Linked DNA regions of Homo sapiens. The protein of the gene in region 1 interacts with the protein of each later gene in a biochemical or structural test. Each region holds a gene or a part of one and is shown in the gene's direction. Other genes may lie near its edges.

What was found.
Region 2: the proteins of CYFIP2 (region 1) and FMR1 form a complex in vitro, tested with the Homo sapiens proteins (one study listed by BioGRID and IntAct).

The regions. Positions count from the first base shown.
Region 1 is NC_000005.10:157,264,541-157,282,184, forward strand, and holds the start of CYFIP2 (cytoplasmic FMR1-interacting protein 2), read left to right. Parts: upstream 1-1,582; 5' UTR 1,583-1,655; exon of another isoform or gene 1,656-2,044; intron 2,045-2,240; exon of another isoform or gene 2,241-2,406; intron 2,407-4,783; exon of another isoform or gene 4,784-5,043; intron 5,044-17,644. UniProt on the Homo sapiens protein: Involved in T-cell adhesion and p53/TP53-dependent induction of apoptosis. Does not bind RNA. As component of the WAVE1 complex, required for BDNF-NTRK2 endocytic trafficking and signaling from early endosomes.
Region 2 is NC_000023.11:147,928,919-147,939,633, forward strand, and holds part of FMR1 (fragile X messenger ribonucleoprotein 1), read left to right. Parts: intron 1-1,029; coding exon 1,030-1,123; intron 1,124-1,209; coding exon 1,210-1,326; intron 1,327-3,506; coding exon 3,507-3,677; intron 3,678-3,766; coding exon 3,767-3,845; intron 3,846-7,585; coding exon 7,586-7,695; intron 7,696-8,547; coding exon 8,548-8,682; intron 8,683-9,180; coding exon 9,181-9,243; intron 9,244-10,715.

The DNA.
Region 1 (17,644 bases):
CCACAAGTCCTTTGCTGGAGCTTGAATAACGGGGCTCCTCCACAAATTGCCCTTATTAGGAACAGCTGAGTGATTAAGTATAAATTTGTGGGCCTTAGGAAACCACTCCTTATATCTACATACACTCCACAATGTCTCAAATGTTTTCAAATTATTTACCCTGTAAGGTATAAAGGGCAACTGTTATTCCCTGTGTTGCAGATACGGTGACCTCTGTGGAGCAGAGTGGTGAAGTGACCTGCTCAGGTGTCTCAAGGTTAGAATTTGGTGCAGCCTGACTTCAGCCTGGTCTGAAGGCCTACCAGGCTGGATTTCAATGAGAATTGTTTCTTTCTCTTTTTCTTTTCTCTCTTTCTTTCTCTTCTTTCTTTCCTTCTCTTCTTTCTCTCTCTTTCTTTTTCTTTCTTCCTTTCTCTCTCTCTCTCTCCCCCCGTCTCTCTCTTTCATTCTTTTTTTTTTTTTTTTGAGACAGAGTCTCACTCTGTCACCCAGTCTGGAGTGCGGCGGCAGGATCATAGCTCACTGTAGCCTCAATCTCCCAGGCTCAAGCAATCCTCCCACCTCAGCCTCCTGAGTAGCTGGGACAAAAGGTGGATGCCACCACACCCATCTATTTTTTTTTTTTTTTAATTTTTAGTAGAGATGAAGTTTCGTTGAGTTGCCCAGGATGGTCTCCAATTCCTGAGCTCAAGCAATCCTCTCTCCTCGGCCTCCCAAAGTTTTGGTATTACAGGTGTGAGCCACCGCTGGGCAGATAATTGCTTCTTTAAAGAGCCCGACACGGCAGATAAGCCTTGAAGAGAAAGGTACCTGTCCTCTCAGTGCTTCCTGCCACCTATTTGTCCGTTAGGCAATTCTTCCAGAATGAAGTTGAGGCAGGCCCCTGTAAAAGAGGTGGCAGCTTCAGGGACTCTTCTCCAGGGAACTGGAAGGGAGCGGAAGAACTTATTCTTAAGCGAAGGAGCCCTATCAGCGACCAAGCTCAATTGGTGGAAGGCCCCTTCCCCTAGCCCCAGTTGCATCTTCTGTCACTTCACCCTGCTCCTTCTCCTCAGAGCACTTTGGGCTGTAACTGGACGTTTGCTAGGTTAATTTACACCTGTTTCTCCTGGCAGGTGATAAAACTCCAAGGGGGCAGGACCCTGTCTTTTGTACACCAGTGCACACCCAAGTCCTGGCACGGTACTTGGAACAGGATAGGTAATCAATAAAGACTGGGTTGATAAAAGAGCACTTGGAAATCATGTGGGGCCAATAAGATCCGAACGCGGCCGAAGCTCTCGTCCTCGGGTTGCTGCAGGTGTGGTTCCCGGTGATGGAGGCCGTGGAAGAAGCCTTCCCTCCCTTTCCCGCCCCCAGGGCAGGAAGCCTGGGGGCTGAGCGGTCCTCCGAAACCGAGAGGCAGGTCCTGGGTGCGCCGGCGGTACAGCGGAGAGCGTGGAGAGACCCTCGCCGCAGCCATTTCCTGCCCTTTGTGTGACAGCCGCTGCGGCGAAGGGGCGGGCGCTGGGTGGGGGCGGAGCCGCGGCGGGCGGAGCAGCGGGGCCGGGGCGGGGCCGAGCGCGGCGCAGCGGAGCGGGGCAGAGCATCCTGCGCCCCGGCGCGGGGCCCTGCGGTAGCCTCAGGCCCCTCCCCTGGACCCGCCGCAGAGCCAGGTAAGCGGCCCTCGCAGGCCTCGGGCCGGGCACGGGGACTAGGATGCCGCCGGGGACGGGGATGAGGCCGTGAGGATGCGCGAAGGGCCGCCCCCTCTCCCGGCCCGCGGGGGGCGCTCGGCGCTGTGCCCGGGCTAGCCCGAGGCCCGGCCTCAGGCCCCACGCGGCCCCTTTCCCCCTCGGACCCACCGTGCGTCCCGCGGCACGGACCCTCTGCCCGGGAGGCGCGGGCACATCGCGGAGCTCCGGCGCGGCGGCGGGGGAGCCGCAGCAGCAGGTGCGCGGCCTGGGCCGGAGCCGCCAGCCCGGGAGGAGGCGGTGCTAATCTCAGGGACCGGAGACACCTGCAGCGGCCGCGAGCCCGGCAGCGGCGACATCCTCGAGTCCAGGTACTGCAGAGCGCTGGCCCCTGCCTCTGCCGCCGTGACCACCGTCACCTCCCCCAGGGCCAGCGAGAGCCGCCTGGGCCCGCCTGGCAGCCGCCTCGGGCACACAGAACGTGTGATGGGTGGGGCGAGGGGCGCAGCGTCGATGTTTGGGGGCGGAGGGCTTTGATGAGAGAGGAGCAGGTCTGACCCGCTTGGAAGCTTTCTGGCCTACACTAGCATCGCTCACCAAGCTGGCTGCGGGCACGGTGGAAGTGGGGGAAGGGGATGAGTGGGCTGACTCCTGGGGGAAAAGGTGGTTTTTTTCTTGAGCTCTGAAGAACCAGGAAGATGCTTGCCTGTCTGTTGTGGCGTCTACTTTTCAGGTCAGCCCTACCCCTCACCCCAAAGAACAGCCCACCTATGTGCAAAAGAAGAGGAGGAGGTGCTCTCTGCTTGGGGATGGGGGCAGGTAGCATGTTCCACATAAGTATGGCCCTCTATATCCAGAACCCGGCTGGAAAGGACACTGACAGCCCAGGTGCCTCCCCAGCACAGGGAATCTGATTTTGACCTTTGCTTGCCTACTTTCCCCAGCACAGTGGAAACACTCACCAGGGCTGATGAGCCATCAGCTGTCCTTCCAGCTAGGCCAAGAATGGGACAAGGATCTTTTTCTGCTAGTTCCTGGGTGCCTGTGCCCTCAGCATGGGCAGGGAGACGGAGGCAGGCCTGCTGGCAGGAGGGGCAAATCAGGAGACTGTCGGTTCCTGTGTTCCCATTTCCTGCCTCCTGTCTGTGTCCCAGTTAGGGCAGTGGGTCTCACCTTACTCTTGGATACAGGCTGTGCCAGCAACCTGGGTCCCTGAGATCTTAGAGGGCAAAAATCAGGTCCATATCTTTGGGCAGGCCTGTGAAGGCCTTGATGGTTGCTTTCTCCACCATTAGACCCTCTCTCTGTGGCCCTCCTGGTGGCCTCCCACCTCCACTTCCATACAGTGCCCTGCCCTTCCCCCAGTCTCCAGTGTCAGAAATGGTTTTCAAGAAAGGAGCCAATGATTGTGTTTATCTTGAAGAGCTAAATACAAAAGAAGTTCCCATTTGATGCAGAGCAGGTGCTTTACAAGTCATTTGACCGGAAAAGAAACAGAGGATGGAGGCATTTTAATGGGAAACAAAGCTTTAATGGGAAACACTGTAGAAATATTTGCTATCACTAATGGTAGAATTTCAAACAGTGGGCTGGAAGTGGAGGTGGGGAGCTGGGTAGTTCTTTTGGGAACGGGTCCCTGAAATGACAATATCTAGCAGCTGTCAGCTCTGTATTTGGCAAGGGCAGCTTTGGCCCTGCAGGCAGGAATGCTGTAAGAGTGTGTATGCATGCATGTGCATGCGTGCATGTTTGTTTGACTGGTCAGGTGTTACTGTCACCAGAAGGCATTTTTTGAGCACCCAGTGTCCACTTTCGGGATGAGAAACTTGTGTACACAGGGTTCCTCGTTGGCATTGGCTGCCCTTTGCCAAGGCAATTATTAGACCTCAAGAAGATAGTGTTGTTGCTTACAAAGTCAGTGCCTCTAGCTAGTTGTGCGCACTGAGCCTCTGGCTGGGGGCATTAGCTCTCTGCTCACTAAGCTTCTTTATTATATTTCCTGGCCAGTTCTGACCGGTTCTGTAGGCACCCAAGGCTGCCTTGTTCAGTCCCTGCTGGAAAATGAAAAAGGAAAAACTTGCTTTAGGCATTAGGCCAAGAGTCGGATGTACAACCCAGTGGGGTTGGAGAGTTTTACTCAAATCAGATGCTGGCCCAGAGAAGGAAGTAGACATGAATTCAAAAACCGGTAAAAGGCCCTGGTAGAACACTACATGACCCCTCTGATAAATCATGCCCTCTCTGATGTTCAGTGGCCTCTGCTGCTGTCATCAACCAGAAAGCTGAATGAGATGATGAATCGGCTACAAGCTAATTAACGGGAAAAGCGCTCCTGGAAAACAGTACGGGTCCCAGTCCCTACGTTTAAAGATTGGACTACACTCTCAACGCAGCTTCTTTGGACCACTGTTGGCCCCAGGGGTCCACCAAAAGCGTCACAAAATGGCCTTTTGTAGCCTCCATGTGGCCACCGTAACAATGAGTCTATTTCTTTACTGGCAAGTATTAATTATTCACTTGTAATTGACAAAGCCAGACATCAGTCACCTCACTGGAGTCTTTATGAAAGGCTTTTGGTCCTGTCATTCTGAGGAGCAAAGCCATGCCTAGGGTCCAGGGGATGGCCCCTGCATCAGTAGTGAGATGGTGGGAGAAGGGGGGCAGGCTGCTGCCTTCTTGGCAGTGAATGGAGGCAGGGGAGGAACTAGAATATCTTTGGATGCTCTTACTACCCAAGGGGTGCATGAAAGTGCCGAGCAGAATGCTTAGCACATAGTAAGTACTAGCATATTTATGTATTTATTGTTATAATGTATTAATTACATAATCATTAAGAATTTGGCTTATGTATGTAATCAACCCTTGGCTATTACCAGCCCCTCTCCCTCCAGAGCTTTCCTGAATTTTGCTTTTTTGAGGGAAGTTGGTCTCTGTGACCAGTAAACCCAGCCCCAAGTTTACCGGCCGAAGGAAGGGAAAGTTAAGAGTGATAGGGCATGAAGTGAAAGGCTTCAGGTGGGAAGTGCTCTTAAGTAGCACAAGAGAGGTGGGTGGAACCTGAGTAGGTAGGGAGAAGTGGGAGGGAACAAGCCAAGCAGAAGCCCAGGGCCATTCTCACATTTCAACACGTAGAGTTAAGGAAGGGCCTCTTCCTCTGTGAGAATTCAGCATTTTGCAACCATCCAAAAATGTTGAGGGCATGCTTTGCTTCCAGGGCAGACAGAGCAGCACAGTGAGCATGGGACACAGGATCCCTGACTTGCTGTGTGCCCTTAAACCAGCCACTACCTCTCTGACGTTCAAAATTGAGCAATGGAAGGCAGCCTGCCCAACTGTTACCTGCCTGTCATCATGAAAGCCTGCGGATGAGGTAATGTCTGTAAATCCCAGTCTGAGAAAAAAAAGCCGTGGAAATAGAGAAGGAGCCTCCTGAATGTGTGACTCTTTTGGGTAAATGCCCTCCATTCCTTAAGAAACAATTTATTAATTATATATTGTGTGTCACTTTAAGAAGATGGATCTGTGGCCTCTCTGTACTGTTGAGCCAATGGGAAGCTTAAAGGCACTTTGTGATTCACAGATTCTGTCAAGGCCCCTGGATGGCCTTGTCTGTACAAAGACACTTCAGAATTCAGTCAGTGGGTATGGGACGCCTCCCAGGATGCAAAGAGCTTAGATATTGGCTTTCTAGCCATGGGCATTATGCTAAGGGCTGTGTGTGATGTACCTCAAAAAATAGCCATTTAAGCCATACTTGGGCCCTGGCAACAGAGGGTGCAAATTCTTGAAAGAAATTGTTTTGAGAAGGCAGAGCTTGAGTTCAGGCAGAATTTCTTGCAGGGATCATTCTGGTTGCGTGGCATTTTGATAGACTTTGGGCAACTCAGATACAGGCAGTGAGAGAGGGAAGTAAATAGGACCTTCTTGCGAGATGCCTGAGAAAGACCCAGTGATGACTTCATCAGTAGACCTTTTGATTCTGTTTGCGTCATTATTTGGTCATTGTAGAGCAATGGTTCTTAGGCTTTAATCTCTAGGTAAAACAGAGGTGTGTTTAGTCTGTCCATGTTCTCTGTTTTCTAAGTAAGGCAGGAGGTGAGGTCCTCTGCAGGAAATAAAGGTGATGGACTGGTTAGGAAACTTCAGGAGACTTCAGGGTTTGGAACAGTTGCCTATGTGGGTGGAATAAGAAATAAACTGGGGAAGAATGAGAGAATTGTCTAACTTCACTGAAGGCCTGGCTGAGATCAAAGAGAATTTGCAGGGCTGACCCTCAGAGAAGACATGCAGTAACTCTTAAGGAATATCCGAGAACTATTTTTGATTTGTGCTTTTAAAATATGATGCTTTAAGATTTGTTTTGGCAAGATATGAATGGCAAGATAAGAATTCAGAACTAGAGGTCAGCCCCCTATCTCCAAGTCTGTTATACTTCCATATGGGAAAGAGAAATGAGGACCTGCTTCTTAGGGTTTGAAGTGGAAACTATACGACAGAAGGATTTTCTAAAGAACTCTCCTCAGATTCTTATATTGACAAGGCAGCCTTGGATATGGGACCTTAGAGAAGCATGATATTTTAACTTTCTTGTTAATTTTTTTAAACCAGAAGTTAAGAATTTTGGTCATTGGCTCATGCAGTCAACAAATCATTCATGAAGTATTAATTAAGCAAGTAATTCCTGGTGTGTGCCTATCTCTGTGCTGGTTGCTATGGGTCAAACTCAGATAAGATGACTATCCTTGGCATTCTTAGCAATCCAAAGAATTAGTGAAATATAAAGCAGTTTGTCGTGCAGTTAAAAACTGTGGACTCTAGACTGTGAGTGCTAAGGGAGTGAGAGAAATAAAGGTCATTAAGGGGCTTGGCTGGTCAGACCTTTGTGGAAAAGGCATGTCTTCGTGTGGGCCATGATAGATCGGTAAGATTTGAGAAGGGAAGAAGACAGTCCATAAGGGAGTGGAGACAGTTTGAGCAAAGGCACAAAGGAAGAGTATCCTTGGACAGGTTTATTATGCCCTGTATACCTTGGCCACAGAGAATGGTCTGCATGATCCTTAACACATGTCTTTAAGGAAGCCCTTTGGATGGAATGTCTCAACTGTAGTCATGGTCATTTGCTTTAGTGTTGGGAGGGTCCTGAGAGAGGCCCAAATCCAGTGATTCTTAACTGGTTGCTGTTGTGGTTTTTTTAGTACACAAAATGGACAATGTTGACATGCTGAACACATCAGCCCCCACAGCCAACCCCCCAACTCTGCTCCATTCCTGCCACTCAAGGGAAGAGATGAACATGCAAGCAATAATATCACACAGAGATCTTGAACCCTCGCCTCACATACAATAAAATGTACCTTGTTTGCAAACCTCAGTGCTTAAGCTATTATTAGCACAAGTTACCCGCAATAACCTTCACAAGGCAGGTTTGGACATCATGGTTGAGAGAGAACCAAGGCTAACCTCCACATTTTACAGACAGAGAAATTTGCCCTTTTAGAGTGAGTGAAAATGTGATTTGGGGGCCTTTGTCTTCATACTGAGCCATGTTCGAGTTGTGGTTTCACATCGATGGAGCTGAGTTCCACGTGCTCCGATCTGGTGGCCAGACCTGAAGCCCTCCTCTTTGTTTCCGTAGCAGATGCATGGCTTCCCTTGTGAGTTTTAGCAGGTGCATCTGAGAGGCAGCTCCTCTCCCCACATACGCGTCATGTTGGTGTTCCTCATATGACAGCCCCAGGGCCCCAGCAGGAGCAAATCAGCAAGCCACCTTGGTGGCATGACTTCCCCTCCTGAGAGCATGAGGCCGTTCCCCTGAGCTGCTGGTAGCCTGGTTTGGTGTCACCACAAAGGCCACCTCAACCTTAACAACACAGGAAGCAGCTGGGCAAAATGGCAAACGAAGGGGAAAGTCCTTTAGCCCCCACCAAGATCTTTTTCTCTGTCTACTCAGTCTACTCATAAACAACGAGGAGGATAGGCCTTCTCCAGTGGCCCAAGTCGAGGCTGACTTGATTTCTCGGCTCTGACTGCAGGTCCCCTGTGTGGAGAGAAGCTGTAGGTGATAGGGCCTCTGGTCCCGGAGGACAGGAGCAGGGGACTGAAACAACAAAGACCACCTTGCCAGTCAGTGCTGGGTACCGGCCAGGTGTCTGAACTGCTAACAAGGAGACTTTGGGTGGTTGTCTTCTAAAGCAAATTATTAAATTTTGATCAAAACGATATATACAAATGTTTTAAAAAATCAAATAGTATTGAAAGCCTTATAATGAAAAACAACCATCCAGCACCCACCCTCCCCTAGAGGCTGCCACTTTTAACTCACTGTTTCTTCTAGTAGCTGCCTCCAGATCTCTAAATGATATGCTTACACTGCTGTTTCTCGATTTATCTATTCTGCACGTTGTCTATTTACTTCCTGCTGTGATGGATGGAGATTTCACTTTCTTACACCATCTCCCTCCCTCCCCTGCCCCCGTCTCTCAAGATAGGAAGAGCTCTATTTTAACCTAAATCAGGTTTAAAGTGTCTACATTATTAATATATATAAATGATGATCACAGACAGCCAAGTAAAGTCCTTTGATTATATTTCCTTTCTTAGAGGGCTTTTCATTTCGCTGCAGAATTTTTGTTGCAATACTTGTCTTTTTATTTATCTATTTATTTATTTTGAGATGGAGTTTCACTCTTGTTCCCCAAGCTGGAGTGCAGTGGCGTGATCTCAGCTCACTGCAACCTCTGCCTCCCAGGTTCAAGCGATTCTCCTGCCTCAGCCTCCCGAGTAGCTGGGATTACAGGCGTGTGCTATGACACCTGGGTAATTTTTTAATTTTAGTGGAAATGGGGTTTCACCATGTTGGTCAGGCTGGTCTTGAACTCCTGATCTCAGGTGATCCACCTGCCTCGGCCTCCCAAAGTGCTGGGATTACAGGCACGAGCCACTGTGCCTGGCCCTGTCCTTTTCTTTTAAAGCTCTGTGTCATATGAGTTATTCTATTGCAGTCCCTTGTCTTCTCAGGAAGTGCAGTGTTAACCCTAGCTCCACCCCTAACTAGCCCAGTGACCTTGCACAAGTCCCTTCTCTTTTCTGAGCCTTGGTTTCCTCATCAGTAGAAAGAGAGCTAGGCTCCCTTCTTGTTCTCATTCTAAACCTCAGAACCTATCACCCCACCCACCTCACAGGCAGTAATATTATTACTCCTCAGTTAATATTATCTGAGAAGTCTTTACTCCAGGGTGGGGCAGCCCCAGGACCTGACAGATGGCAGAGAAACCAAAACAGGCAGGGGCAGGGGGAGGGAACAAACAAGCTAGCTGGGCCTGCCCTGTATGGTCTAGTTCACCCCTGCAGTTTAGGGGGCTGCTCTGTGGGGTGGTATGGTTGTATCTATTACTCTTTTCCTCCCCTGCTATCCCCGTTGGTTTTTGCTCTCCACAGCCTCTGCTTGTAGGGGCATCATTTACAGTCCCCAAACTCCCCAAGCTCCTACTCTACCCCCAGCTCTCTTTGTACCCCTTCTGCTTATGTTACACTCAAAGTTTCCCAAAAAGTAGTTATAAAAATACTAACTTTTGGTAGCAGCTTTATTGAAATATAGTTTGCATACTGTACAATTCACTCATTTAAAAAATATAGTTCAGGGCAGGCATGGTGGCTCATGTCTGTAACCCCAGCACTTTGGGAGGTCAAGGTGGGTGGATCACCTGAGGTCAGGAGTTTGAGACCAGCCTGGCCAACATGGCAAAACCCTGTCTCTACTGAAAATACAAAAATTAGCCAGGCATGGTGGCAGGTGCCTGTAATTCCAGCTACTCGGGAGGCTGAGGCAGGAGAATCGTTTGAACCCGGCAGAGGTTGCAGTGAGTGAGATCATGCCATTGCACTCCAGCCTGGGGAACAAGAGTGAAACTCTGTGTAAAAAAAAAAAAAAAAAAAACCGTTCAGTGGTTTTTAATATATTCACAGAGTTGTACAACCCATAATCGTAGTCAGTTTTAGAGCATTTTAGCACCCCAAAAAGAAATCTCATGGCCTTTAGCACCACCACCTATTTCCCCCAACCCCACCCCTTGGCAACCATAGATTTGCCTATTCTGGGCATGTTTAATAAATGGAACAATACAATACGGGGTCTTTAATGATTCGCTTCTTTCACTTAGCATAATATTGTCAAAGTTTATTCATGTTGTATCAATATCAGTACTTAATTACTTTTTATGGCTGAAAAATACTCCATGTGGCTATACAATTTTTTATTTATCAGTTGATGCATATGTTAGTTCTGCTTTTTAGCTATTACAAATAATGGTGCCATGAACATCCATGTACAAGTTTTTGTGTGGACCTGTATTTTCATTTCTCTTGGGTGTATGCCTAGGAGTAGAATTGCTGGGTCAAATGGTAACTGTGTGTTTAAAAATTTGAGGAAATACCAATCGATTTTCCAAAGTTGCGGCACCATCTTACATTCCCATTAGCAACGGTATTCTCAGTTTCTCCACATCCTTGCCAACACTTGTTATTGTCTGTCCTTTTCATTATAGCCATCCTAGTGGGTGTGAAGTGGTATCGATTTGCATTTCCCTAATAACTAAGGTTATTAATCTTTCTGTGTGCTTATTGGCTATGTGTATATCTTTGGAGAAAAATCTGTTCCTTGCCTATTTTTAAAATCAGGTTCTCTTTATTAATGAGTTTTAAGAATTCATTTTTTAAATTTATTTTTATTTAAAAAAATTTTTTTGTAGAAACAGGGTATCACTCTGTTGCCCAGGCTGGTCTTGAACTCCTGGCTTAAGCGATTCTCCCATCAACCTCCCAAAGTACTAGGATTACAGGCATGAGCCACTGTGCCCAGCCAAGAATTATTTACATATTTTATATACTTAGCAAATACATGATTTGCAAATATTTTCTTCTATTCTGTGGACTTACTTTCTTGATGGCGTCCTTTGAAGCACAATTTTTTTTATTTTGATGTTTAGTTTATTTTTTATTTTGTTGCTTGTGTTTTTGTTGTTATTACATAATTCAAGGTCACAAAGATGTACTCTTATGAGTTTTATAGTTTTAGCTCTTACATAGATCTTTGATCCATTTTGAGTTAATTTATTATATATTACATTATTTATACCTCACACCATAAAACAAATTTTGCATGTGGGTATCCAGTTGTCCTAGAATCATTTGTTGAAAAGAATATTCTTTCTACATCTCTTGTCAATTGACCATAAATGTGAGGATTTATTTCTGGATTCTCAGTTCAATTCCATTAATTTAATCATTGTTCATTGTCTTCATGGTAACACCACACAATTTTGATTACTGTAGTTTTGAGTATGTTTTGAAATCAGGAAGTGTGAGTCTTCCATTTTTGTTCAGTTCCTCCCACCCCCAAGATTGTCTTGATTATCCTGAGTGAGTCCCTTGAATTTCCATATGAATTTTAGGATCAGCTTGTCAATTTCTGCAAAGAAACCAGATGAGATTTTCATAGAGATTATGTTGAATCTGTAGGTTAGTTTGGGCAGTATTGCCGTGTTAACAATATTAAGCCTTCCAACCTATGGACATGGGATATCTTTTTATTTATTTAGGTCTTTAATATTTTCAACAAGGTTTTATTGCTTTCAGAGTGTATGTTTTGTACTTATTTTGTTAAGTTTATTTCTAAGTATTGTATTATTTTTGATGCTACTATAAATAGAACTGTTTTCTCCATTTTATTTTCATATTGTGCATTGCTGGTATATAGAGATACTACTGATTTTTATATGCTGATATTGTATCCTACAAACTTGCTGAACTTGTTTATGACTTTCAATAGTTTTTAGTGGATTTTTCTTGGATTTTCTATAACAAGACTATGTTATCTGCAAATAGGAATAGTTTTACTTTTTCCTTTCTAATCTAGATGTCTTTTATTTAATTTTCTTGCATAATTACCTTGGCTAGAACTGCCAGTACAATGTTGAATAGAAATGCTAAGAGCAGACTTATTTGTCTTGTTCTTGATCTTGGTGAGAAAGCATTAAGTCTGATATTAGCTAAGAGTTTTTTGTGGCCACTTATTGTCAAGTTGAGGATATTCTCTAATCCTAGTTTTTTGAGTGTTTTTATCATGAAGGCGTTGAGATTTTGTCAAATGCTTTTTCTGTGTGTATTGAGATGATATGGTTTCTGACCTTTATTGCTATAGCTTATTACGTTAATTGATATTCTGATGTTAATGTTAATCCAATCTTAACATTCCTGGGATAAATCTCACTTGTTCATGATGCATAATCTTTTTTATATGTTTCTGGATTCAGTTTTGCTGAGGCACTAACTTTTATCGAGCACTTTCTACCAGCCAAGCCATTTACATGGACTAACTCATTGAGTTTTCAAAGCCTAAGAGATAGGAACTATCATTATCCCTTATACCAAAATGAAGAGAGTGAGGCTCAGAAAGGTTATGTCACCTACTCAAGGTCACACAACTAGGTATTGGCAGAGGTAAGATTCTAACTCAAGCTATCCAGTTCACCTCCACACTAAAATGCCTCTCATATGGATATCAGTGGTGGACATGGGATGATTTTCAGATAATACCCAGACCTGTGTTTATGTTCATTACTATGTTTTTTATGGCTCCTCTGTTTATGGCATATAATATTAGTTTTCTCTCTGTGATTGTGATATAAAGCTTCCTTCTAAAATGAAAAGTGGCAAAAAAGAGAATCCCTAGAAAAAAATATTAAGTAAGAATTATCCTGGCAGTTTATGGATATGACTATGTATTCTATGCTGATTTAAATTATCTGTATGGGTTTTTTCTCTTTTTCTTTTTTTTTTTTGTGACAGAGTCTCGCTTCGTCACCCAGGCTGGAGTACAGTGGCTCAATCTCAGCTCACTGCAACCTCCACCTCCCAGGTTCAAGCAATTCTGCCTCACCCTCCCGAGTAGCTGGGACTACAGGTGCGCACCACTATGCCCAGCTAATTTTTGTATTTTTATTAGGGATGAGGTTTCACCATGTTGGCCAGGCTGGTCTCGAACTCCTGACCTCAGGAGATCCGCCCATCTTGGCCTCCCAAAGTGTTGGGGTTACAGGCATGAGCCACTGAGTCTGGCCTTATCTGTGTAGCCACCAAGTCCGGTCTTATCTGTGTAGCCACCGAGTCTGGCCTTATCTGTGTTATTAATAGTGAAGGAGAAGGAATGGAAAAACTAGAAGTAAGGACATGGCCAACTTCAGGTCGTCTCCTCTCTCCTATGTTGTCAGGAGATTGAGGTGTGTTCATGAATTCTTTCATTCAGTACTTCCCCAGTGCCTAATCTGTTTGCAGCACTCTGCTAAGGTCTCTGCATTTTCAGTGATAGGTAAGAAAATGGTCCCTGACCTTGAGGAGCTTTCACATGCATGGTTCTACTCCAGAGAGGGCATGTTATGTTTTATTTCATGGGCAAACTCAGATTGATTGCTGGTGGCTTCCTGGAGCTCAGTATTTCATGAGGATTCTGAAGCTGTCTGTGGACTTAGTGGAAAATAGAGTCATTACCAATTAGCAATGTCTGTCCTGGCATGGGAGGAAGAAGTAGCAGTATTTGGGTTTTATTCTGGGGCCAAGAAAACATCATAGAGTGCATTTACACAAACCTGGATGGCATAGCCTACTACACACCTAGGCTATATGGTATATAGCCTATTGCTCCTGGGCTGCAAACCTGTACGGCATGTTCTTGTACTGAATACTGTAGGCAATTGCAACACAGTGGGAAGTATTTGTGTATCTAAACATAGAAAAGGTACAGTAAAAATATGATATTATAATCTTATGGGAACACCATCATATATATGATCCACTGTTGACTGAAGCATCATTATGAGGCAAATGACTGTAAATTTTTTTAATAGGAACAACCTAAATCTCCCTTTTATTTATTTTTATATTTATATATCTATATAATATTTTCTTTGTAGTAATATATGTATACATATGTGTATATATATGTATATGTGTGTGCAGTATGTTTGTGTGTGTGTACGTATACTTATATAGCCTCTGGCTGGAGCGCCATACGGACATGGAAAATATTTCCTGGCCTCTTGATGTTCATGAAACACAAAGGTGACAATTACCTAATCTTTCTAGCTTGCCAGAGTTGTGTTCTTCTTGAGGAAGGAAAAAGCAGCCAAACTGGGAAAAAAATATGTTTGGCACCTTTCAAAAAGGTACAAAACCAGGTGTGGTCTAGAAGAAAAGGCATAGAATTGGGAGTCAAGGTATCCTGTTTCTACCCTACCTCTGCCACTAGCTGACCATGTGACCTTGAATAAAAGTGTTTACTTCTCCATAACACAGTGTCCTCAGAAACACAGCAAAAATTATACCTGCTGAATTGAATTTGCAGGATAGTTGTGATTGAGAAAATCAATGTGAAAGATCTATAGAACTGAGATATTAGTGTAATAATAATAAACCTTCCTTTTTTTGGTAGGAGAATTGTTGGAGTATTTAATTCATCCTCTCTATTGAAAACAGGCCACAGACTAGCGAATGTTAAACGAAAGTATGGGAGGCCATTGTTTAAGACTAAGCTCCTGTACTAGGCCCCTAAAAACCAGACCAAATCAAAATGGAGTCACTCATGCTAAATGCCACTCTCTACCTGAGTCAGCATAATAAGCAAATCCTCTCTGCCTTAATCCTTACAAAAAAGTAACCTGAAGTAACTTGATGTTAACTAATCATTTATTTTTCTATTGTTGTGTTTTCTTATTCCCACCTTACAAAACCCACAGTTTTGCTATTGCCCAGTGGGAGCTTTCATTCTATTGTATAGAAAGGAGGTGCTTCAATTCATAAATCACAAATTAAGGACAATTAATTCTATAAATTTATTGTAATTTTGTCTTTTGACATGTCTTTGCTGGCTACTGTGTTAAGTATTCTACATGCTGTAGTTATATAATCAAAATAAACATTGAGGACAGGCACTATTGTAAATTGTCACCCTTACAAGGTAAGGAAACTGAGGCTCGGAGAGGTTAAGGAACATGCTATTGTTTATATAGCTCATAAGTGGCAGATGACAGATTGAAACCCAGAACTCAAGCTTACCCACTACACTAGCCTAATATTTCACTTCAGTAAAAAGTCTTAATATTTCATTTCTTTCCAGAAAAATCAAACAGATAATGACAATGCAAGTATTTTGCTTACAGAGAAACAGGGTTTAAGCTGTAAATGTCAGAACCTGCATTTCCAAAGCCATGTTCTCCTGGCAGTCGCCCTGCATTTATGGGACCCACCCCCCTCTTGCTTGGGGTCTGTCAGTCATGTCTGCCTGGGGGGGCACCTAAAGCCCCCCCTTCTCAGAAGCAAATTGCTTGTGTGCCCAATGTTATTATTACTTTTGGTGAAACCAGGCCACCGACTGAGTTTGTTATGAAGACACTGCATTTAAACCCATCATGAATGCCCGCCACTGAGAATTTGCAGCTGTGTTTGGTAAATGATGCTCCCAGAACACTGTTAACTTTTAAATATTTTATTAATTTCTTTTTCAAAATGATGAAATGGTCACATGTTCGTAGACCGAATATAAAGAATCATTCTCACTTGGAAGATTGCGTAACAGGCAGGACACTTGGGCAGGAAAGAAGTACGTTCTTATTTTCATTTATACCTCTGTTCAAATTTCCAGAATATTTTTCCTTTCTGATTGATGTGGATTTGGCAGTGCCTACCAGCACTTGAGCTAAAAATGTCGGATTTCCTTCTCCCTTAGGCACTGAATGATCTACCAATGCTCATAGAAATCCACTACAGAAGTTGTATTTGCCAGGGGAGAAGAAAGATAGCATTAACATAAACAGACTCCTAATTTATTTGCTTTGTAGGTTGTTCACTTACTTATTGATTCTCTTCAAGGGATGTTCAGGGGTACTATTATGCTACAGAGGAGAACTTAATGGTTATTCTGGTAAATGAGTATTTTTGTGTGTGTGTGTGTGATGAAGTTTTGCCCTTGTTGCCCAGGCTGGAGTGCAATGGCATGATCTTGGCTCACTGCAACCTCTGCCTCCTGGGTTCAAGTGATTTTCCTGCCTCAGTCTCCTGAGTAGCTGGGATTACAGGCACCCACCACCACGCCTGGCTAATTTTTTTTTTTTTTTTGTATTTTTAGTAGAAATGGGATTTCTACTAAAGAAAAATTGACCAGGCTGGTCAGGCTGGTCTCGAACTCCTGACCTCAGGTGATCCACCCGTCTCAGCCTCCCAAAGTGCTGGGATTACAGGCGTGAGCCACCACACCCGTCTGTAAATGAGTATTTTTTAAGTTTGAGTAGCCCAGAAGAAACCTAGTTACAGGAGAAAAAAAGGGAAGTTGGATAAGAGCTGGGAGCTTATAAACTGATCTAGGGGATTTTATGAAAAATTTGAAACATATATAAAATTGGATGGAAAAATACAGTAATTTCTATGTATGTGTCACACACAATCTATAGTTACTAACTCACTGCGAATTTGTTTCATTTCTATTCACTCTTCCCCCATCTAGTATTATTTAGAAGCAAAACCCTGTGTCCTTTTATCTATATTTTAGTAGATCTTTCTGGAAGATATAGGTTCTTTTAAAACATAACCTTGATATTATCAAACCTAAATACAATATTTCCTTCATATTATCAAATATCCAGTCAGTACTAATTTTCTAATTTTCTCATAAAGTTATAATTTTATTTGTATGGTGGTTTGTTTGAAATAGGATCCAAATAAGGTCCACACATGATAGTGTGTTCAGTCTCTTCAAAATCTATAGACTTTCCTCCCATCTCTCTTTTCTATCTTTGCAATTTATTTGTTAGAGGTCCTGAGTCATTTGTCCAGCAGAATTTGTCATAGATTGCATTTTGCTGATTACATCACTGGGGTGTAGCATGTTTTTCTGCCCTCTTATATTTCCTGTGAGTTGGCGTCAAAGGCTTAATTAGATTCAGGTGTTTTGTTTTGGATCCAGCATTCTTGGTGCGTTTTTCCATCATTAAGCACATAATATCTGATTGTCTTTCATTTAGGGATGTTAACAGCTGATGATGATCCGTGCCTAGATCCATTTGTTTGTAGAGGTTGGAAAACAAGGATATTATCATTTTTCTGTTAAAAAGGAAAAAAATACTTTTATGGAAAGAAACATCCATCTCTTCTATAGTTCGGTTATCTAGTGGTATAGTTTAAGAAAGACAGGTTAAATGTTTGCTTTTATTTACCAATTCTCAACATAAAGGTTGGTTCACAGGCTCATCTAACAGTAACAAAGTAATAAAAACCAAGCTTTTATTAGATGTCTTTGTGATCCATCAGGGCTCTTCCAGCACATCACTCGATTTTAAAATCACTTGGAATAATAGTCCCTTTCTGTGGAGTTACTCCAATAGTACAACATATATATACATTCATTTGTTTCATTTTACTTTTCGATTTGGGGGCCACTTTTTATAAATTTAAATTTTATTTTATAAGTATGTAAAATGTTTTGACGTTTTCAAAGTCAAATCTACAAAATAAGGCATATTCAAAGGATTCTAGCCCCTATCTCTTAACTGTTTTCCCTTCTTTTCCTGTTTTCCATAGGTAACTAATTTTTAAAAGCATATGGCTTGCCTTTCCATTGTTTGTTTTTTAAGTAGAAGATGTGTGTGTAGACATCTGCAGCCCCCTCTCCTGGGTAAATGAGTGCATGCTCTCCATACCATGTCCTGGAGATCACCCGTAGTTGCATGTAGAGAGGGTCCTCACTCCATTTTCCTGCTGCTTCATATTTCCCTGTACAGTGGCACCATAGTTTATCCAGACAGTCCTCTGTTAATGGATGTATTAGGCCATTCTTGCACTGCTATAAAGAAATATCTGAGACTGGGTAATTTATAAAGAAAAGAGGTTTAATTGACCTCAAGGTTCCACAGGCTGTACAGGAAGCA
Region 2 (10,715 bases), on another chromosome or scaffold:
GGTGGACTTTGGCAAAAATGGTTTGGTTTGCAAGAGCAATGGAGAAAAAACTTATTTAACTTTTCCTACTTATAGAATCAAGGCAGCCTTGCGCTTGTTTAAACTTACTTGGCTATACACGTGTCTGATGTACATAATGTACATTTGTTTTCTAAACTAACTTTGTTCATTCTAAGATTTAAAAACTGATCAAACAAATGTGATAATTCTGTCATAAGTCACAAACTATAAACGATTTCTCCGTTTTTTTCTCTTTTACCTAAAATGTTTTCAGATAAATGTGTAATAAGTAGAGCCAAAGAAGCTTTAAAAAGTCATCTCATCTTACAATCCTTGATCTGGAATAATGCTTAAAGACTATAGAAGAGACGCATTTTTATTTTTTACAGATTTTATTAAGTGAATACAGTACGTTTGATTTGGACATGTTGTTGAACATTAAATTGCAGTTCAGAATACATAGAAATCCTCCCTTTTCTAGAGATTGTGTATGTGTGTAAATTTTTGTGCCTTCTGGTTCATGTACGTTTCCTTCTCTCCCTCAAATCGTTTAGCAGTTTCTTACCCCATTCTCCGTGATGTGCTTATTTCATATTGCATGCCTGTATCAAAACATCTCATATGCCCCATAAATATATATACCTACTATGTACCCACAAAACTAAAAATTAAAAAAAAAGGAAAAAAAAAGGCCTGCAACAAGAGAAGAAGAAAGAAATCAGATACCCTGTAGGTAGCTATCTCCAAAAGTTTTCAATAGTTGACTTAAGAAAACTACTGACTTGTATGTAACTGAAATCAGGAAACCTGTAGTGTAGAGTGGTTCCCCTGAATATGTCTCTTTTGGTAATCTAAGCTGTATTTCAGAAATGTACAGAAAAGGAGCTAAGCTTCTAAATGGATATAGCATATTTTGCATAAATCAAATTTAATATGAATCCATGATTCTTGTATGTGTAAATCTGCCTGCATTTATTTATGTCAGTAGTTGGTAATTATTCATCTTAATTTTTTTTTTTAAATTTCTAGGTGTGCCAAAGAGGCGGCACATAAGGATTTTAAAAAGGCAGTTGGTGCCTTTTCTGTAACTTATGATCCAGAAAATTATCAGCTTGTCATTTTGGTGAGCATTTTTGAGTTGTTTATTTTTAGTTTAATTCATCTGGGGCAATTGCCTTGATAATAATGTTGTTAATTTAAATCATTTAGTCCATCAATGAAGTCACCTCAAAGCGAGCACATATGCTGATTGACATGCACTTTCGGAGTCTGCGCACTAAGTTGTCTCTGATAATGAGAAATGAAGAAGCTAGTAAGCAGCTGGAGGTATGTCACTTTCCCTAGCACTGCTTGTAAGGGTACCTAGGAACGATTAACTGTATCATTCCACAACTTGAATATGGGGAGCTTGTCATTTATTTACTGCTTCTTAACAATTCCTTAGGTTCTATAGTTGGAAAATTGTACAAAGCATAATCATACTAAAGTTTCCATGCCTGAGGTTTCAAAATTAAACAGCAGCTTATGTATATTAAGGGACTTCTGGTACTTTCACTTTTACTAGAAGTTTATCAAAGTTGCTAATAAAATGCGGCAATGCTTCTTCCATATAACATGTTGTCATTAAAAATACTAGAGAATATTTAAATATCTAATCATATTCCTCTCATTATGTATGTTTATCTTTGTTTAAAAGGGTATAGAACTTCTTCATTCTAATTGGTTGTCATTCTTTAAAACTCCTGTCTTCAGATTCCCGCCAGAGGCTATTTCCCTAACTTACTATTTTGTCTCTTAAGGTGCATTTTATCTACTTTTATTAATCCTCCAATAATTTTCATCACCATATATTTGTTTTCATTGATAACTATCAAGTACGTCCATCCATTACTATAGAAACTAAGTGGATCTTAGATGAATGTGCCAGCTCTACTATATTCCTGTCAAATTCCAGAGTTCGTCATCATTATTCATTAGAAGGAAAACACCACACATTTGAAATAGTAAAGAAAAAAAGGAGTTCCAAACTGCATTTTAGGAGAAAAGGTAGTCAAGACTGTGTTCTTATAAAAACCCTGTGAAATTTGCCACCTGTCAACTTGATGTATGATGCTGAACTCTTAGCAGAAGGGGAAAAGTTTAATCTCCTTTTGCCACTTTGTTTTTTCTTAAGGCCATGGAGGTCTGTTTAATTGGTCTTTGCTCTCATTCTTTCTTGATGTCCCTGTGTTCATGATTTTGTGGTTCCTTCAGTGATTCTCTCATAACTTTTAGCCCAGAGCTGCCTCCTTACTTTGATTGTGAGTATTATGAAAATATACTCATATGCCTCTTAAACATCGAATTATTCTTAAATGATCTATCATACTTTTGGCTAACCATTTATCAGTGAATTATCAATGAAAAAGAACGAACCAGATTAATGAACCAGGACTCAAAAAACATGACTTCTTGAAAAGTCCTAGAATTATTTTATAGATTTTATTACTCTAGTCTAAAAAAAATGGGTATTGCACTTTTAAATTATTTATGCTAGTTGTATTCATTCATTCAAATTATCAGGTCTGTTGAACAATGAGAAACTAGTATGCATGCCTATCTTTCTTCACTACTAATATTAAAGAGATTTACATGTTCCTATAAGAAATTCCCATTTTTCAACATGAGCCACTAATACGTTTGGTTTTCATTAATGGCATGCTAGAACTGAACACTAAATTTTGATAATGGTATTTAAAGACAGTGGTTATCCACAAGTTTGGGATGTCAGTGTAACTTAGTTTCGTCATCACTGGATATTTACAAGTGCTCATCATAATTGTGGATCCAGATCACAAGGTCTTACGGACTCTGGTCTCATGTTAGCTTTCAGATGCTTACTAAGTTTTTAATTTTTGACATTTTTTGATTATTCAGTTTAACTACTGTACCAACAATTTTTGATTCCTTAGGTTTTGAGGGAGGTGTCATTTTAATGTCATTTCAACAGAGGAATGTTTAGACCACAGTACCTAATGATGTTATAAAAAATGGCACTGTTTCCAGAAAATATATACTGATACCTTTTAATAAAAATGAAGCGAATAAAATTTTCTATAAAGATGATATTTAAACATTTTTTTACCTAAATAAGTAACATTGAGTTTGTCAGACCGAGTGAGCTGGTTTTTACTGGGGAACATTTGACCTGCTTCTTAGTTATTATATTGCTGATGTCATTGGTTAACTAAGGCAGCCTTGTGATAAGTTTTCAGCAGTTACCTTGGAAAATGTCAACAAGTTCTTTCCTATTAACAAAAACATATAAAATGTCATAGACCTTTAGTAACCTAAAAAGTACTTAGGCTGTGAGAGGTATTTTCTAAAACCTGTTAGTTTTAACCTAAAACTATTAATAATTTATGGACCCCTCATATACAGGGTCAAGATAATTTACATGGCTGGCCTAAATACAGTTGTCGTAATAGTTGATAAAGTGTATTCATCAGACGTCCATTTCTCTTCAGAGTTCAAGGCAGCTTGCCTCGAGATTTCATGAACAGTTTATCGTAAGAGAAGATCTGATGGGTCTAGCTATTGGTACTCATGGTGCTAATATTCAGCAAGCTAGAAAAGTACCTGGGGTCACTGCTATTGATCTAGATGAAGATACCTGCACATTTCATATTTATGGAGAGGTAAATATTTTACTGCATAGTTTTTTTTTCCCCAAACAAGTATTTCAGCTGGCTAATCTTTTGTCTTAAAATGTTTCCCCTTTTATTAGGATCAGGATGCAGTGAAAAAAGCTAGAAGCTTTCTCGAATTTGCTGAAGATGTAATACAAGTTCCAAGGAACTTAGTAGGTAAGTCAGAAGTATCTGTTGACATATAGTACAACAACTAAGTTTAGGTAAACAGTTTATTTATAGTGATAGAATTCCATTTTTTCTTACTGGAGGGTATCATTTAATTGAAACATAGTCTTTGAAATATGATCTGTTCTTTTTTTTTATTATTTAAGTTTTAGGGTACATGTGCACAATGTGCAGGTTAGTTACATATGTATACACGTGACATGCTGGTGCGCTGCACCCACTAACTTGTCATCTAGCATTAGGTATATCTCCCAACGCTATCCCTCCCCCCTCCCCCCACCCCACAACAGTCCCCAGAGTGTGATGTTCCCCTTCCTGTGTCCATGTGTTCTCATTGTTCAATCGATCTGTTCTTACAGCATACAAAAAAATATTTGTTAAGTATGATGCTCAAAGGTTACATTTTCAGAAGGTATTCAAAAGAGATTGCTTTTCTAGTTCAAACCTACTAATACCTGAAAGGATAAATCTTGCCCAGCCCTCCTGACTGTATACCTTTTATATCTTAAAATTAAATAATTTTTCAAAATGAATGATATTTGGGGACTTTATGATTTGAAATAGATTTGTATTTGATCTTTCTTATGGGACTATAAAATGATAGCATTCATTTTAATTATCTCAGGGTTGAAGATCTGAACATAGGTTACTTAAATCTAAAAAGTTCCAAAGCTAGAAGAAACTTCAGATGTCTCTGGGACTTTCTGCAAAGTCAATAGTAATTCTTCATTTTGACTTGAGTAGTGTTTTATCACCATCACCATCGTGAGTATCAGCAAATATTTAGGAGCTCTTCACCAATACTCCTAAATGCTGCAGATATCTTTAGTAGAACATATCAAAACCAGGTGCAGTTTTATCAAGAAAGCTACATATGTTTTTAATTTGTAAATAAAATTGGGACATACTGCCTATATGTTTTTTATCTTTTAAACTTGAGATCATGGCCATTTTATATAAAGTAATACATGTTCTTTGGAAACTTTAAAGAAGAAAGCAAGGACTTCTCATACATTCTGTTTACGTAGTTTCAATGCTAATTTAGCCTGCTTTTTTGTCAGCATAGACTCATAAACATCTTCCTTGTCATTAACAAACACTAGAAATGATAAATGTATCTCCCAAAGAAAATTAGCTTGAAGATAAAGTGCAAATAGTAGGAAAATAATGCAGAAGTGTTAGCTCAACTGTGTACTACAGACAACTGGAGAAATGTGTTTGTAATGTTACTAAGGTAACTTGCATACCAATTGTATGTGTACAGAATGTATGCATAGCGCAAGATAAAGTGCTAATCTCAAGACAGTTGGGTGATGAATAATATTTATTTTCTTCTTTACAGCTTGTCAAGCAATTGCATACCTTTTGTAGTTAGAAAGGTTATTGTAAATTTAGGAATTCTTATGGAAAAAGAGCTGGTAGTTGTTTTGTTTTTTTTTTTTAATAGCAAATGAGTAGAGAATTATGTGTCAGATTCATTAAAGTTGGTTTTGAAGATGGCATGATGGTAGTGGGGAAAGTGCTTGGGCATTGGAGTTGGATCTGGATTTCAGTCCTACTTTATTCTTTGGTGGCAATGTGAGCGTGGGTCACTGTCTTAGCCCCCCTGAGAATTATTTTTCTTACCTATCAAATGTGATAATAGGATCCACCTCATAGAGTTGATGTGATAATTAAATTGGAAGATATAGTAGGGGACAATTCTGGACACAGTAGGGGACTCTGTTCTTCACCTTATTCAAAACAACTCCATTTCAGTAGAACAGAATCACAGTAAATTGCTCTTTGGGATTTGGAAATAAGTGTAATGTAGAATTGGATTATTTGCTATTAAATATTAAAAGTAGATTCTACCTGTGGTTACCTGGAAAGAAGAGGATCTCAGAAATAACCAGAAAGACTGCTAAAAGTAAATCAGCCTTGTTTTTGTTTTGTTGTTTCTAGTTAGTAAAATGAGATAATTCTGTTTTAGAGATGGTCCACTGCAACACTGGGAACGTTGGAACTTTTCAGAAAGCATTTTTGTGTAAGATTCTGCAAGGCAGATCTTTAGAGAGGTGTCATAATCAGTTTTGCATGTGTTTTGTTTGAGTCAACCAACGTTATTTGTGATCTCTATTTTTCACAAACTCTCTTTGGTATGTGCACTAATTTATCTTTTCATTAAAATTGGATTCTTCACTCACTAAGAATGAATTGGTATGACTATTCAGTCAGCTATAGTTAACACACAGTACTTAGGATAATTAAGATATTATCTTAATAAAAACATCCCCAAATCTCATTTTTCATTTTGTTAACTCACTTAGATCTTTATTAAAGTCAACATTAATTCATGAAAATGTAAGTGTTGCAGTTTAAAATCAAACTGTGTGAAGACTCCAAGTAGCTTCTCTCACCTCACCTTTCCCCTTTTCGTTATAGAAGAACAGAAATAATTGACAGAAGGACCTAGACCAAGAATCCTGATTTAATGGTGTCAGATCTGTTCTATGACCAGTCAAAGAGTTTCTAGGGGTGAATGAGGCAGCCACACACAGCAAGAATGTCAAAGCTATGCTCTGATTACAAGAGCCACAAGAATTTTTTGTGAGAAGGCTTTTCACTGAGTTCTTATCTAGCATTGGCTCAAAGCAAATTTTTGCTTCCATCTTTTCCCCCAACTTTGCCTTGAGCTTTGCCTTTAAAGGCGAAAAGGAAAAAATGGAAGATGAGATGGTGAGGGCAAGCACATGGTGGATGTGGCCAATGTAAGGGTACTTAGGTACCTTGGGTGAGCCCTCAGAATCAGATGTAGTTCACATGTACATTTCCAGAATTAGTAATTCTTAAGTTTGTAATGTCTTGCTTTACCACTCGTGTCATGATGCAAATGAAAGCAGTCATTTTCCAGTAATGTATATGATTGTAAAATAAATAAGGAAATGATCAAGTACCTATTTTTTACTGGTACTTGAAATCCCAAGTTTTAATAGATGTTACTGAAAAATACTTAAATTGGTTTAAAGCTTTTTCATTGTGGTTTTGAGTTATCTTAAAGTGGGTTTTCTTAATCTTTTACTCTGTGACTAATCCCTTCACTTTTTAATACATTGCTAAAGTTTGTAAGTAATGCACAGGAGTGATACTCTGTTAACACATTGACCTTGAAGAATTTGTATTCCTTTTGGATGTATGTATAGCTGCTTAAGCCACTTTCAGACTTAGATTATCTTTTATAAATGTGCCTTCCATACAGAATTCTGAAAATATTTACCATGGACAAAGAAGCAGATTTAAATCAGGTACAGACAAGAATTGAAAGTGTTGAATAAGTGAATATATTTCCCATTCTCTCTACTTTTTTCTTAATTCTTATAGAACTTTGCAGAAAGAATGATACATACCACAGTACCAGCAAGTTTAAAGCGTACCCTTTTGTGCAAAAATAAGAGGTTATCTTTGAACTGCCTTAAAAATCCAAAATTACCCTATCAGTTTGCAAGTATTAATCAACTCTGGTACCTGACCAAAGGAGTTTAAACAATGATGTCCTAATTAAACAGAAAACCAGATTAACCATCTTGTTGAAAAGAGTCTCTACTTTGGTTTTGAAATCTTACAATTCAATACATACACATACACATAAAAATATCTATCTATATGAATGTAATAGTTTACAGTAGGGCTGTGCTTACTGCTTTGAGGTATGTGTTTTTAAAACCAAACTTGATTTATTTATTTCTTAGGCAAAGTAATAGGAAAAAATGGAAAGCTGATTCAGGAGATTGTGGACAAGTCAGGAGTTGTGAGGGTGAGGATTGAGGCTGAAAATGAGAAAAATGTTCCACAAGAAGAGGTATGTTACAGTGCGAATATTTTGTGGCACATATAATAAAAGTAAAAGTTTTTTATGTGATATGTTGAGGACCTCTAATATGTGCATAAAGTGAATGCAAATATTCTGATTATCAAGCATGCCTGCTGTAATTAATGTTATAATTGTAGATAATGGCCCTTCTCTGTCCTCTAATGCAGTGAGTTTGGATTAGTCACTTTATTGAATTCTTTTTTCCTGATCTTTAAAATGGGTAGTTATAAATTTTTAAATATGAGACATACATCACTGGGTCGAGTGTTAATGGCAATTTAATAAAATAATATATATGTAAATGCTTCGTAAAGCACTTTGTAAATGTTAATGTTGCTGACAAAAGCAAAATTGGAACACAGGTTTTCTGGCTTTCATCTTTTCACTTTTTTAGTGTGGGGATTGTGTAGTATGTGTGTTTATTCTGTGTGCTTTAAATTTATTTCTGTGCTTAATATCTCTTCCCCATCCTCCTTACCTTTAAATTCTGTAACCCTTTTATCTTCATAAATATATGCTTTTTGTAGCAGCTTTTAAAGTATTTGCATGGGGTAGAGAGGTGAGGATGCACCTTTCTGTGCAATAGTACTCTTAAGATACTGTCTCATCAAAGAGCCGTAATTTTCACATATTGTCTAGCTTTCTTTTTGAAAGATTCTTTTAGCTAAAGTTAAATCTTTTTTTTCTGCGTACAATTTGTATTCGGTAATTTTATAAACCAAAACTGTTTATAATAACTTACATTTTTTAAAAATATGATGATTGATAACACTAATAGAGCTAAATAAAGTCTTAAATTGGTCCTTTTTTTCTCTTTTGTGTTTTCTGTTTTTTACCAAGGAAATTATGCCACCAAATTCCCTTCCTTCCAATAATTCAAGGGTTGGACCTAATGCCCCAGAAGAAAAAAAACATTTAGATATAAAGGAAAACAGCACCCATTTTTCTCAACCTAACAGTACAAAAGTCCAGAGGGTAAGAATTACTTGTCACTTTGAATTACAATACAAGTAATTTGTCTCAGATGTCACAATTGGTATTTTGGATGTTTTCTCTGGTTAGACTTGTAGGCTACTTATGTTCTATTTTTTTTCCAAATGTAATTGCCAGCTTATGAGATACTACAAATTAGTGTGATACATACTTTTCAATTTATTCACAGTAACAACTCTTATGCCATAAACACAAAATAATGGGGTTGCATTTAGTGGTCACATTTTTCTTTTGACAGTGGACTCTCTTTTTTCCATGCCTTCTCTCTTTAAATTTTGCAGGTATCGTAGCTCAAAATACACCTTCTGTTAGTTGCATTAGTTACTACTTGAACCATATTTTAGAAACTAATTTTCTCTGTTTGAACTAATCTGTTTAGAAATGGGTTTAAAAGTCCTGCAGTGAAAGTCCTGCGTTCAGGCTTCTGTGTATCGTTTGTTATAGTTAATGACATCCCTTGCATTCCTTATACTGCTTTAGGTGTTAGTGGCTTCATCAGTTGTAGCAGGGGAATCCCAGAAACCTGAACTCAAGGCTTGGCAGGTAGGAAAACATTCCTTGAGAAATACACTTTCAGTTTATATTTTAATGTTTATTCCCCTTGTTAACAAAGATTACAAATGATCCTCAGGATTAGGGACTGGAGGGAGGAGTGTTTGTGGGTATGTGGATCCATTGCCCTGGAGTTAAAGCTTAAACACCTTCATGCCGCTTGTAAGGCTTTTCCTAATTACTTGTCTAGTTATCATCTTTAAATTATCTTCTCCCTTGCACTCTAGAGAACCTTAAGCCATACTGAAGTACTTTGAGTTCTCTGAACATTCTCGTGCTTATTTTGCTTCTAGACATATGTACAGGTTTACTCTGCCTGGAATGCTTTTTCTCCTCCACATGTCACCTCATTTTGACCTTATTCCTTACAAAGCTTTCCTTGTGTACTTGCCGAAGATCCCCACCCCCTTGACTGGTTCAAGAGCCTTCCCCTTCTGTTTTGCAATGTGCTCACCCCTAGCATAGCACTTAAACATAGATGTTTATTTGTTGATCTCCTCAACCACATTGTAAGTTCTTTGAGGGCAGGGAGAGCTGGTGAGAACTGTTTATGGAAAAAAATGTTGTGGACTCATGGATTAAAAGCAAAGGTGCCATTTTACAAAGAGGACTATAACGGCAAGTGGATTGGATATGTCTCATTGCCGGGCAGCCCATTATTCCAGAACACAGAGTAACTTTTTTCTGGGGTCCGTACTAAAGGCCATCATTCCATTCTTGCCTTTCTTCATTTTAATTTACTATTCAGGTCTACTCGTGAAGTGCTTAAATTAGAGTGGCCCTTGGGGTACTCCAGCAGTTTAGACATGTTGCAAGAAAAGATATTCGTAAATAATTTGCTCCGAAGTCAATCTAACTAAATCTGTTACATAGGATTTTAAAGCTATTTTGGTGATATTTGACCCAGAGGGAAGGGTGTAGCATTCATTCCATCACATGGTATTTTGGGAAATAATACAGTTAAAGGCTTTTGTAACAAATAAAGCTTGTTGGAGAAAAACCCAACATGCAGAAATGAATTGCCAGTTATTAATTTGCACAATTGTTTCTAGGTTTCCCTATAACTTGTGACAAGAAGTAGTTGTTTTTTTTTTCCCTCTTAATATATATATATATGGGCTAGGAGTACAGACATTTAGCATATGCCTTTTAAAAATCTGTTCTTATGTTAAGTAGTGTCCATAGAGAGAAGTTCAAACTTTCCTTGTGATTCAGCCTTTTAAAATTTTCAGAGTACATTATTGAAATGTGTATGGGCTTGATAAAACTTAATGCTTGTCAATGTACCTATTTTTTTGTCTCACAGATTATTCAGTGCATTTTTATCCTGATGTTTTTGTTTGTATTTTGTGTGTACTCTATTTACTTGGTTAGCAGAAATGATTTACTTTTTACTTTTGTACCCTTGGTATTTCATTTTGATTTTTTTTTTAAGAATTTGATCGGCCAGGCGCGATGGCTCA